Homo sapiens: one gene and its partners. The protein of the gene in region 3 purifies or fractionates together with the protein of the main gene of each other region. This does not show direct contact. Each region holds a gene or a part of one and is shown on either strand. Other genes may lie near its edges.

Evidence for each region.
Region 1: the proteins of GLB1L3 (region 3) and ZYG11B purify together in Homo sapiens (affinity purification with mass spectrometry; 3 studies listed by BioGRID and IntAct, with this or other methods). This does not show direct contact.
Region 2: the proteins of GLB1L3 (region 3) and SIL1 purify together in Homo sapiens (affinity purification with mass spectrometry; 3 studies listed by BioGRID and IntAct, with this or other methods). This does not show direct contact.

What each region holds. Positions count from the first base shown.
Region 1 is NC_000001.11:52,813,438-52,817,191, forward strand, and holds part of ZYG11B (protein zyg-11 homolog B), read left to right. Parts: intron 1-98; coding exon 99-296; intron 297-422; coding exon 423-475; intron 476-3,094; coding exon 3,095-3,192; intron 3,193-3,754. UniProt on the Homo sapiens protein: Serves as substrate adapter subunit in the E3 ubiquitin ligase complex ZYG11B-CUL2-Elongin BC. Acts to target substrates bearing N-terminal degrons for proteasomal degradation with the first four residues of substrates being the key recognition elements.
Region 2 is NC_000005.10:139,196,677-139,200,430, reverse strand, and holds the start of SIL1 (nucleotide exchange factor SIL1 precursor), read left to right. Parts: upstream 1-2,062; 5' UTR 2,063-2,162; intron 2,163-3,754.
Region 3 is NC_000011.10:134,307,337-134,311,090, reverse strand, and holds part of GLB1L3 (beta-galactosidase-1-like protein 3), read right to left. Parts: intron 1,466-3,754; coding exon 1,328-1,465; intron 521-1,327; coding exon 440-520; intron 28-439; coding exon 1-27.

The DNA of each region.
Region 1 (3,754 bases), on a different chromosome or scaffold from region 3:
CTTCCTGAATTGCCTGTTATCCAGGGCCTAAAAACAGTTATCTTAACCATTTACTATACATATTACATTAATTTTTATATTTTCTTTTTTTTTTCCAGAACAATATAGCTGAAGTACAAGAATTACATTCTGAATTAATGTGGAAAGATTTTATAGACCACATCAGTAGTCTCCTACACAGTGTGGAAGTGGAAGTCAGTTACTTTGCAGCTGGAATTATTGCCCATTTAATATCCAGAGGTGAACAAGCTTGGACATTGAGTCGTAGCCAGAGGAATTCTCTGCTGGATGATTTGGTAGGGTCATTCCATACCAACAAAAGACATTCATAGTGGTTAAACTATCAAAGCCTCATAATGTAGTAAATAATGCAGTGCTAAATAAATATTGTAATCCTTTCTTGTGTGTCTTTTGTCTTCCAGCATTCAGCTATTTTGAAATGGCCAACTCCAGAGTGTGAGATGGTAGCATACAGGTAATTAGTATCATAATTAACAGTAAACCAGCAACCTAGTCTAGAGATCATTCCTAAGAGTCATTCCTACTAGATGCATAATTTTTCCCTCAGGCACCTCAATATTGGTTATTTATTTATTTATTTTGAGACAGAGTTTCACTCCGTCGCCATGGCTGGAGTGCAGTGCATGATCTTGGCTCACTGCAACCTCCACCTCCCAGGTTGAAGCAATTCCCCTGCCTCAGCCTCCCGAGTAGCTGGGATTATAGGCGCCCACGACCACGCCCCGCTAATTTTTGTATTTTTAGTAGAGACGAGGTTTCACCATGTTGGCCAGGCTGGTCTTGAACTCCTGACCTCAGGTGATCTGCCTGCCTGGGCCCCCCTAAGTGCTGGGATTACAGGCGTGAGCCACCACACCCAGCCAAAAGTATTGGCTTTAAAAGAAGCAAAGTATTTTGACTTTTTTCTACCACCTATCACTCTTCATGTTTCCTTCATTTCACATTTGTTGAAGACAAGTGCTAGGAATTTGTTCTATGCTCTTGAAATACAAAAATGAACAAAGACATGGTGTCTGCACACAAGAATTTTATATCCTTGTGAGGGAGAGTGAATGTGGATCAGATAAAATACCGTTATGCCAAATGTCCATAGAATGTTATGAAATTAAAGGTGAAGCCCAGTGGGGTAGCACATACCTGTAGTCCTGGGAGGATCACTTGAGCCCAGGAGTTTGAGGCTGCAGTGAGTTATGATTGCATCACTGCATTCCAGCCTGAGTGACAGAGCAAGACTCCAAATGTAAATACACACACACACACACACACACACACACCTTTCAGAGGAAGTGAGTTGTGACCTGAGTGTTGAAAGATAAGGAGAGGCAGGAGATTTTTAGGAAGAAAAAGCATCGTATTAATGTAGGAAGGTCTAAAATAAAATGACACATTGAAGGAATTAGAAGTAGCACCAGATTTGGGCCAGGCATTGTGGCTCATGCCTATAATCCCAGCACTTTGGGAGGCTGAGGTGGGTGGATCACTTCAATCCAGGAGTTCGAGACCAGCTTGGCCAACATGTTGAAACCCCTGTCTCTACTGAAAGAACAAAGTTAGTGGGGCATGGTGGTGCACACCTGTAATTCCAGCTACTTGGGAGGCTGAGGCATGAGAATCGCTTGAACTTGGGAGGTGGAGGTTGCAGTGAGCTGAGATGGCGCCACTGCACTGCAGCCTGGGTGACAGAATGAGACTCTCAAAAAAGGAATAACACTAGATTTGGTTGGGGAAACAGTTTGTAATAATTTATTAAAGGGCATACTGGGCCTGGCATGGTGGCTCACACCTATAATCCCAACACTTTGAGAGACTGAGGTGGTAGTATCACTTGAGTTCAGGAGTTGCAGACTAGCCTAGGCATCATAGTGAGACCTCATCTCTACTAAAAAATAAAAAAACCTGGGCATGATGGCATACACCTGTAGTCCCACCACTTCGGAAGGCCAAGGCAGGTAGATCACTTGAGCTCAGCCTGAGCAACATAGTGAGACCCCGTCTCTACAAAAAATAAAAAATTAGCCAGTTGTGGTGGCACATCCCTGTAGTCCAAGCTGCTTGGGAGGCTAAGGTGGGAGAATCGCTTGAGCCTGGAAGGTTGAGGCTGCAATGAGTTGAGATCGCCTTACTGCACTCCAGCCTGAGCAACAGAGTGAGACCCTGTCTCAAATAAATAAATAAATGTAAAAATAAATAAATAGGCCGGGCATGGTGGCTCATGCCTGTAATCCCAGCACTTTGGGAGGCCGAGGCGGGCAGATCACGAGGTCAGGAGATCGAGACTATCCTGGCTAACGTGGTGAAACCCCGTCTCTACTAAAAATACAAAAAAATTAGCCGGGCGTGGTGGCAGGCGCCTGTAGTCCCAGCTACTTGGGAGGCTGAGGCAGGAGAATGCCGTGAACCCAGGAGGCGGAGGTTGCAGTGAGCTGAGATCGCGCCACTGCACTCCAGCCTGGGCGACAGAGCGAGACTCCGTATCAAAATAAATAAATAAATAAATAACAAAAATTAAGAAGTGCATACTGGATGCCTAACTCTGTTTGTAATTAGATAACTTGATAATTAAATTACTAATTACCTGAAGTATTTAATTTTTATTCAACTTATTTTTTTTGTTTGGTTCATAAATGCTGATGTTGCCAACATTTTTTTTATTTCTCCAACTTATGTTCCACCTATTTTTATTCAGACCAGTAGAAAATAGAAGGGATAATTATACATCTTTTTCATAGTGTTCTACTAGTTAGTTATCACCTAATTTCTCTATTTCTTAGTTTCCAAACCAAGATCTACTTATCTTCAAATGTGTATCTTTAAGACTAAAAAGTGCTTTTGGAAAAATTTTTTCTCTTTCACTACCATGTTCTAATCACCTTCCATCTTCTGTACTGAGTCATGTCTGAATGCAGTCTTCTCTGAAATGGTTAAGACAAAGAAATGATATTCTATAGCTCATTTATATTAGTCTAAATATAATAGGATAAAATTTTGAAAATGAAAAGTTTAGGAATCACTGCTTTAGGAAATTACGCTAAATATGGGATGTAACTTTGATTCTTTTCTTTTGAACCTTTAGGTCCTTTAATCCATTTTTCCCATTACTTGGCTGTTTCACAACACCAGGAGTTCAGCTATGGGCAGTTTGGGCCATGCAACATGTCTGCAGCAAGAATCGTATGTACCAAAAAAAAAGAACTGTGTTTTTTTTCTTTAAGTGAAATTCTCATTTCCCAGGAAAGATATTTCTAAATTGTGTATTAAAGTGATTTTTAAGAACACTGACTTAAAATGTAAGGCCATCTTAGGTTATAAACTTAAGGTATTCTTTTTTTTTTTTTTTTTTTTTTTTTGAGACGAAGTCTCGCTCTTGTTCCCCAGGCTGGAGTACAGTGGCGCGATCTCGGCTCACTGGAACCTCCGCCTCCTGGGTTCAAGCGATTCTCCTGCCTCAGCCTCCCGAGTAGCTGAGATATCAGGCACCTGCCACCATGCCCGGCTAATTTTTGTATTATTATTATTTTTTTTTAGTAGAGACGGGGTTTCACCATGTTGGCCAGGCTGGTCTCAAACTCCTGACCTCAGGTGATCCGCCCGCCTAAGCCTCCCAAAGTGCTGGGATTACAGGCATAAGCCACTGTGCCCGGCCAACTTAAGGTATTCTTTCAGAATGAGCATGGTGTAACTAGACACTGAATAATAGTGGTGAATGAGACACTGTTCTCACCTCAAGGAATTT
Region 2 (3,754 bases), on a different chromosome or scaffold from region 3:
GGCCTGGGGTGGCAGTGGGAGACAGACTATCCCTTTCCTACCACATACCTGAGCTGGTTAGATCCGTCCCAAGGAGAAAGGCCCCGCTTTGAGCGCTGGCAGCTGTGTTCAGCTGGACTCTTCTCTTGGCCCAAGCATTCATTTATTCATGCTATTATAAGATTTGAGCTTATTCTATTTTTAAGGCTCTTACTCTTGTAGCACTTTATTAACATCTTTTTTATAACTCGTGCCAGTCTTATTATAATTTATATGTTCATTCTCTAATTTATCACTCATGAAATATTTGTTGAATATTTATTATCTGTACTTATGGTACTAGGCAGTGACATAAGCTAGAATTATTCTTAGGCCCAGTTCTTCTCACTGGTCTCCTGGGTGTTCCAGGGGAAAAGTGAGCTGTTCTCTTTCCAAATCAGGCCCTAGGTGTTTTATCTAGACCTTTCTCATAAACTGGCACTATTCACTGAACTACTGCCCAGGGGCTTGTTCTCCCTTCCCATACTAGTAACCAAGGTTTGCTCAGTGGCTATGAAGTCAGTTTCCCATCTGCTTGAAGTAAACATAATCAAGAAGGTAAATTGTCTGCTAGAAGCTCATAGAGTACATGGAAAAGGGAAGGGAAGTCCAGAAATAGGTTGTTTGCTATTGGGAAATACTTGCCATTTGGGGAGGTAACTGTCTGGATTACTGTTTTCTCCACTCATGAATGACCAGGAATCACTATGTGGGGGATCTGAGGGCAGGAGGGGGCAGTCATTTTTATTCATCAGGTTAAGCATGTCTAGGCAAGGGGAAGGTCTAAAAGTGGAATAGTGGAAAGAGAACAGGACATTGGAGACACTTAAATCTAGCTTTAACTCCCAGTTCTACCACTTCCTGACTGTATGACTTTGTATAACTCCTTTAGCCTCTTTGAGCGTCAGCTTCTCCATTTATAAAAAGGGGATGACCATTCTGCTCAGAGGACGTTATAAGTAAATAAAATATATATGCAGCACCTGGTACAGAAAGCATGATATTCACTGGTACAGCAGAATTACAACTGCGTTGACACCAGCCTGGGCAACATAGCGAGACCCTGTCTGTAAAAAAAAAAAAAAAAAAAAAATTAGCCTGGCAACGGTGGCACGCGCCTGTGGTCCCAGCTACTGGATGGAGGCTGAGGGGGAGGATCCCTTGAGCCTGGGAGGTCAAGGCTGTGATAAGCCAAGATCCTGCCACTGCACTCCAGCCTGGGGGACACAGATTCTGTCTTAAAAAAAAATCAGAATCGCAAGTGACCTTTATTTTATTTTATTAGATTTTGAGACAGAGTTTCACTCTGTCACCCAGGCTGGAGTGTAGTGGCACGATTTTAGCTCACTGCAACCTCTGCCTGGTGGGTTCAAGCGATTCTCCTGCCTCAGCCTCCCAAGTAGCTGGGATTACAGGCGCTCGCCACCACGCCTGGCTAATTTTTGTATATTTAGTAGAGACGGGGGTTTCACCATGTTGGTCAGGCTGGTCTTGAACTCCTGGCCTCAAGTGATCTGCCTGCCTGGGCCTCCCAAAGTGCTGGGATTACAGGTGTGAGCCACCGCGCCCGGCCACCTGATGCTATTTTTAAAATAACTGGTCCTTGTAAAAAATCTACACAAGTATATAAAGTGAGTGGCTTAAAGGTGTCCTATTTTGCATGAATTTGCGAGAAATTTTATTGCTGGAGACTCTCGGCTTCTGTCCCAAACTGAGTCACAAGAACTTGATTTATTTTTACTCCGCACCCCTCTGATTGCTTTCTGAGGGTCCTTCCGCTAGAAAGAAATTACATTGTTGGAAAATCAGACAGGAAACTTCGCAGTTCCAGCCTGGAAGCAAAAGCAGGCGTGAAGCTATCTCTTCAGCCCTCCCTCCCCCCAAGGGGAGGGGCACGGGGGCAGCTCGTGCAAGAGTCTGCAGAGGGCGGGGCTAGGGGCGGGGCTCCCACCTCGGTGCGGGGCGGGGGGCGCCGCGCGCTGGTCTGGCGGCCCGCGATTGGGCGAGGCCGCGAGCGGCGTGACAGCTGCCAGCTCACCGGCTCAGACGGTCGCCGCCGCGTTTGCGCAGGGGGAGCTGGTCGCCGCCGCGGCCGCCTGGAATTGTGGGAGTTGTGTCTGCCACTCGGCTGCCGGAGGCCGAAGGTAGGGGCGGTGAGGGCCGCCCGGCCCTGGAGCTGGGCGGGGGGCTCAGGGCGCTTCCTGGGCCTCCTCCTGCCGGCGGCCTCGGCGCCTTCCCAGCAGTGTTCTGGGGACCCACACATCCTCACTAGTGTCTCCAAAGCGGGACGTCCAAGTGGGCCCGGGGCTCCCTGCCGAAGGCCTACCTTTCTTATCTTTCCCACTCAGAATGTCTCCATTCACCTCTTTATTGGCAGGAGATGGGGCCGTGGAAATTTGAGATTGGCTTTGGCTCCGCACCTGTTTTTAGTGCCCTTGCCTGTTTCATTCTCCCAGCCTAAGTTTCCGTATCTGTCCGAAGAAGGGGTGGTTTGGTGTTGATCTCCGAGACCCGTGTGTCTCTTCCCATGTGGAATTATTGTCACTCTCTTATTGCTTGTTTTTCTTTGTCCTGGAAAATTTGCCTTTAGAGGTTACAGACTGGTTAGTGTTATCTCTCGGATCGTCTAGGGGCTTTGTGCATAAGCCTTGGGCTCCATTCCCTGGGATTTCCGATAAGATGGTGCGTGGGCAGCTGTACCCCAGGGGGTTCTCATTCAGGTGGTCCCGGAATCCTGGCTTTGAAAATCCCTGCTTCAGAAGTCAGGAGAGAATGACTTGACATATGAGCCCCTGGAATGGGGCTCTGAGTGGGAAAAGCCAGGAATCAGGAAATGCTAACACGTGTGAGGCTGGGGCTTTCTTTGCACCGGAGGAATTAGAATGCCATTTGATGTCTTTTAAAAATATTTGACTACCTATATATGTAAGATCAGTTTTCTAATATTCTTAAATGCCTGGCTTCGTTTAAAGTTCAGTTGGCTTTCCCACCTCAATAAACCTAAATAAAAACATGATCTGAGAGATGGGGCGGGGGTTAAGTTAACCCAAACTAAGTAGACAGGAGGAGAATGAAACTTACATATTTGCTAAGAGAAGAAAGTGATGTGTTTATAAACAGTTTTTTTTTTTTTTTTTTTTTTTTGAGGCGGAGTTTCGCTCTTGTTTCTCAGGCTGGAGTGCAATGGTGCCATCTCGACTCACAGCAACCTCCGCCTCCCAGGTTCAAGCGATTCTCCTGCCTCACCTTCCCGATTAGCAGGGATTACAGGCATGCGCCATCGTGCCCGGCTAATTTTCTATTTTTAATAGAGACAGGGTTTCTCCATGTTGATCAGGCTGGTCTCGAACTCCTGACCTCAGGTGATCTGTCTACCTCGGCCTCCCAAAGTGCTGGGATTACAGGCATGAGCCACCTCGCCTGGCATATAAACAGGTTTTTTTTTGACATTGTGAAAGATATTTTGTTGTGTGTGTGTGTCTTTTCTGCTCTCACCCCACCCAAGTTTTTTTCTTTTCTGATAAAAGTATAGCCAGATTTGGGGATTGGGTAGGATTTTGATGGGAGCCAGAGTGTAACGATATTGGGATTGATATTTGTATAACATGGGTCAGAACTTGGTCTGTGGTTTTGAGAACATGGCTCTCGGGTTTTTAAGATGGTGTTACCACACCACATTTATTTCCCCTTTCTTTCATTTGTTTAGTGAATTTAATCTGCTCATGAATACATGTGC
Region 3 (3,754 bases):
GTTTGGGTACTCGGGGCAGGGGAGTTGCTGCAATGGAGATGGGGCACAGGGCAAAAAGTGCCTGAGATGACCACTGCCTTCTCTAAGCCCCCCATGCCTATCCAGCATGGCTTTTCCTTTCATATTGGGGGTTACTATGTCATCCATGGTATAAGAGCTTTACAAAGAGTAACTCAATCTTCGCAGTCATCACAGGAGACCAAGGTTACTATCTTTATGCTTCAGTGAAGAAACTGAGGCTTATAAAATGCTTAGAAACCCTGATTTTAAAAAATCACACAGATTTTAACCCCAGGGTTCGAAGTTAAGGTTGCCCTTGTTCTCAGGAGCTTGGTGTAACTGCTGCCCACAAGGGAGACCCACGCCTTCCTCACTTTTCCACAGAACAGAGACTCCACATGAGGAGGGCTGGCCCGTAAGTTAAATGGGTGCTGAGTACCTGAGACAGATTGAAAGAGTTTTTGAAGCTTCAGATATTTTTCTGTGTAATCTCCAGCCTCCGTGAGCACTGCATCATAGTCTGCAAGACACCAGGGCCAGTCACCAGCCATGCAGTCTCTGCAGGAGGCCCTGTTTCAGCACCGCTGGCAGGAGATGGCCAGGGCCACCGTGAGTGAGACAAAAGGAAGACACCTTCCATCCCACGTGGGTGTGTGATGCCAGTCTAAGGACATTCCCCACAACTCTTCCTGGGCACCTTCCACTGGCTTCCAGTGTCAAGCCATGACACTGGGCTTGCCCCCACTTCTTCACTTTCTAATGCAAACTTGTTCAACCCACAGCTCATGGGCTACAGGCGGCCCAGGATGGCTTTGAATGCAGCCCAACACAAATTCATAAACTTTCTTAAAACATTTTGTGTTTTTTTTTTAAGCTCATCAGCTATCATTAGTGTTAGTGTATTTCATGTGTGGCCCAAGACAATTCTTCTTCTTCCAGTGTGGCCCAGGGAAGCCAAAAGAGTGGACACCCCTTCAACGGGTACTCTTTTCTTTGCTCAGTCTGTATCGCCCGGCCGTGCAGGTCTGTGCCTTTACAGCAGTCACCGTTCCTACCCTGCCTCTCTTCAGAGGTTCAAGCCAACAGGGCAGTATACCAGATGTGTGAAGCGGAGCTCTAAGTCCCGGAAAGCCCTGTCTACTGCAATGACAGCCTGTTGGGGCATTATGAACATACAGAAGGAAGGAAAGTAGATAGGAAAATCTTCAGTACTCAGCATAGATTATAGGTCAAGAACCCAGTGGTGCCAGAACAGGCTTCCGGAGCCTCCTCTGTAAAGCCCCAGCACCGCCCATGCTGGAGAGGCTACTACACCAGCGACACTTGCCATAGCTGGTGACAATGCCCGAGTGCTTCCCGAAATATGTGGCCCCGTTCATGAAACCAAAGTTGGTTCCACCATGGAACATATATACATTGAAGGAGATCTCATATTTGATGAATTCAGACACAGCATGTTCAACCTCTGCAAAGGGGAACATGAGAACACAGAGAATGTTAGAAATTAAGAGGAGACAGAAGCCTCTGGCAAACTCTTATCCTTTCCAACCCCACTCCACAATCAGTTACAGTAACTCCTCGCTTCACGGCTATATACATTCTTGGGAATGGAGACTTTAAGTAAAATGATATAAAAAAAAAAACAATTTTTCTCTCAATTTTATAATGAAACAATGTTGAAGAAAACAGTATTATATGAGGATATGCTGTACATCATTTTGTTTAGTTTCCAAGAACCTATTGATGACGTTAAAGACCTACTGCAAATGTTTTATCATTCAACCTCTACAAAGATTCCAACAAAAAAATAGGCAGAATTGGCCAGAACTACTCTAGGACACCGAATCTTGTCAATCCCAAGAGATTTTTGAACACTTTTTTTCCAAAATATTGACATAATTTGACTCTAAACTACATCTATTAAATAATAACCTAAGAACCCTCATGTCACTTAAATATCTAATTTTCCTTAAGTTTTTTGAAATCATACATATAATTAGTACACCCTCATTACTACCTTCCAGTGAAATGTTTCTGGGAACACTGACTTGGAAACACCGCCATAGTCCACAAGTGGTTGCTCTTAATCTTTAGCCACAAAACTTCCATTTTGTACTGTGTTTAAACAGCTGCAATCATCTCTCCACTGGCCACAGTGGGAAGAAGAAGGTTAAAAGTCATTTAGAGTGGGAGTCAATTCTGGCTGTGCTCGTTACTATTTGTATGACCTGGGGCAACCTATTTTCTTTCTCAACGCCACTGCTTCCTGATCTGTTAAATGAATGTATTAATTCCAGCTATATCATGGGACTGATGAGAAAATTCATTGATGAGGTAATATATGTGGAAAAAAGGCACAGTGCCTGCCATACAAGAGACCAGAAAAGTTTTATTTGGTAGTGGTGGTGGTGGTGTTGGTGGTGGTGGTGGTGGTGATGATGGTGGTGATGGTGTTGATGGTGATGGTGGTGATAGTGGTGGTGGTGGTGGAGGTGATGGTGATGATGGTGATGGTGATGGTGGTGGTGGTGGTGATGGTGATGGTGATGGTGGTGGTAGTGGTGGTGGACATGGTGGTGGTGGTGGTGGTATTTGGTGGTGATGGTGGTGGTGGTATTTGGTGGTGGTGGTGGTGGTGGTGGTGATGGTGGTGGTGGTGGTGATGGTGATGATGGTGGTGGTGGTGATGGTGATGGTGGTGATGGTGGTGATGGTGGTGGTGGTGGTGGTGGTAGTGGTGATGGTGATGATGGTGATGGTGATGGTGATGGTGGTGGTAGTGGTGGTGGTGGTGGTGGTGGTGGTATTTGGTGGTGGTGGTGGTGGTGGTGGTGGTGATGGTGGTGATGGTGATGGTGGTGGTGGTGATGGTGATGGTGGTGGTGGTAGTGGTGATGGTGATGATGGTGATGGTGGTGGTGCTGGTGGTGGTGTTGGTGATGATGGTGATTGTGGTGGTGATGTGATGATGGTGGTGGTATTGTTGCTGGCATTATTGTTGGTGGTAGTGATGGTATTATTGTTGGTGTTATTGGTGGTAATAGTGGCATTTTTCTTTTGACTTTTTTTCTATTTTTCAACCTAAAACAGGCTTTTCTCAGTTCCCAAGTATTTTTCAATGTTTTTCTATACTTCAGATACAAGTGGCCTTGTTTTCATAACAGCTCTTTCGAAATATCTTCTGTAGACACAAATGCCTATTAAGTAAACGACTGCCAGGCATTGCTCTAAGTGGCAGCACTTGATCCTCACACCAGCCTCATGAGGTTGGTTTTATGATAATCCTCACGTTTGGATGAGGTCACTGAGAATTAAAATGAAGGAAGCCTGCATGAAGCTAGCGCATGGCTAGCGCTGCAGAGCTGAGATTAAAACCTGATCTCTTTGGCTCCAAGATCCATGCTCTTGGCTATCGCTGCATGTTGTCCCCTGACTATTATTAGTGCTTAGTTGACAATGCCATAGAGAGGGCCTATGCACTGCTAGAGATGATTAATGTTCCACCTTCCTCAGAGATGTCACATTTTCAGAGAAGCTTCGGTGACCACCTAACCTTACCTGCGCAGGTCTTTCTTCTGTCTTTTCTATCACTGCACCCTGTTTGTTTGCTTCAAAGTATCCACCAAACATGGAACTACATATTGATTGTTTTACTCTGTAATGATCTGTGGACCTCACTAACTTATACTCTGTTGGGGGTGGGAACCATGTAATTTCTATCCACCAGAGCATCCTCAGGGCCTGGCTGAGTGCT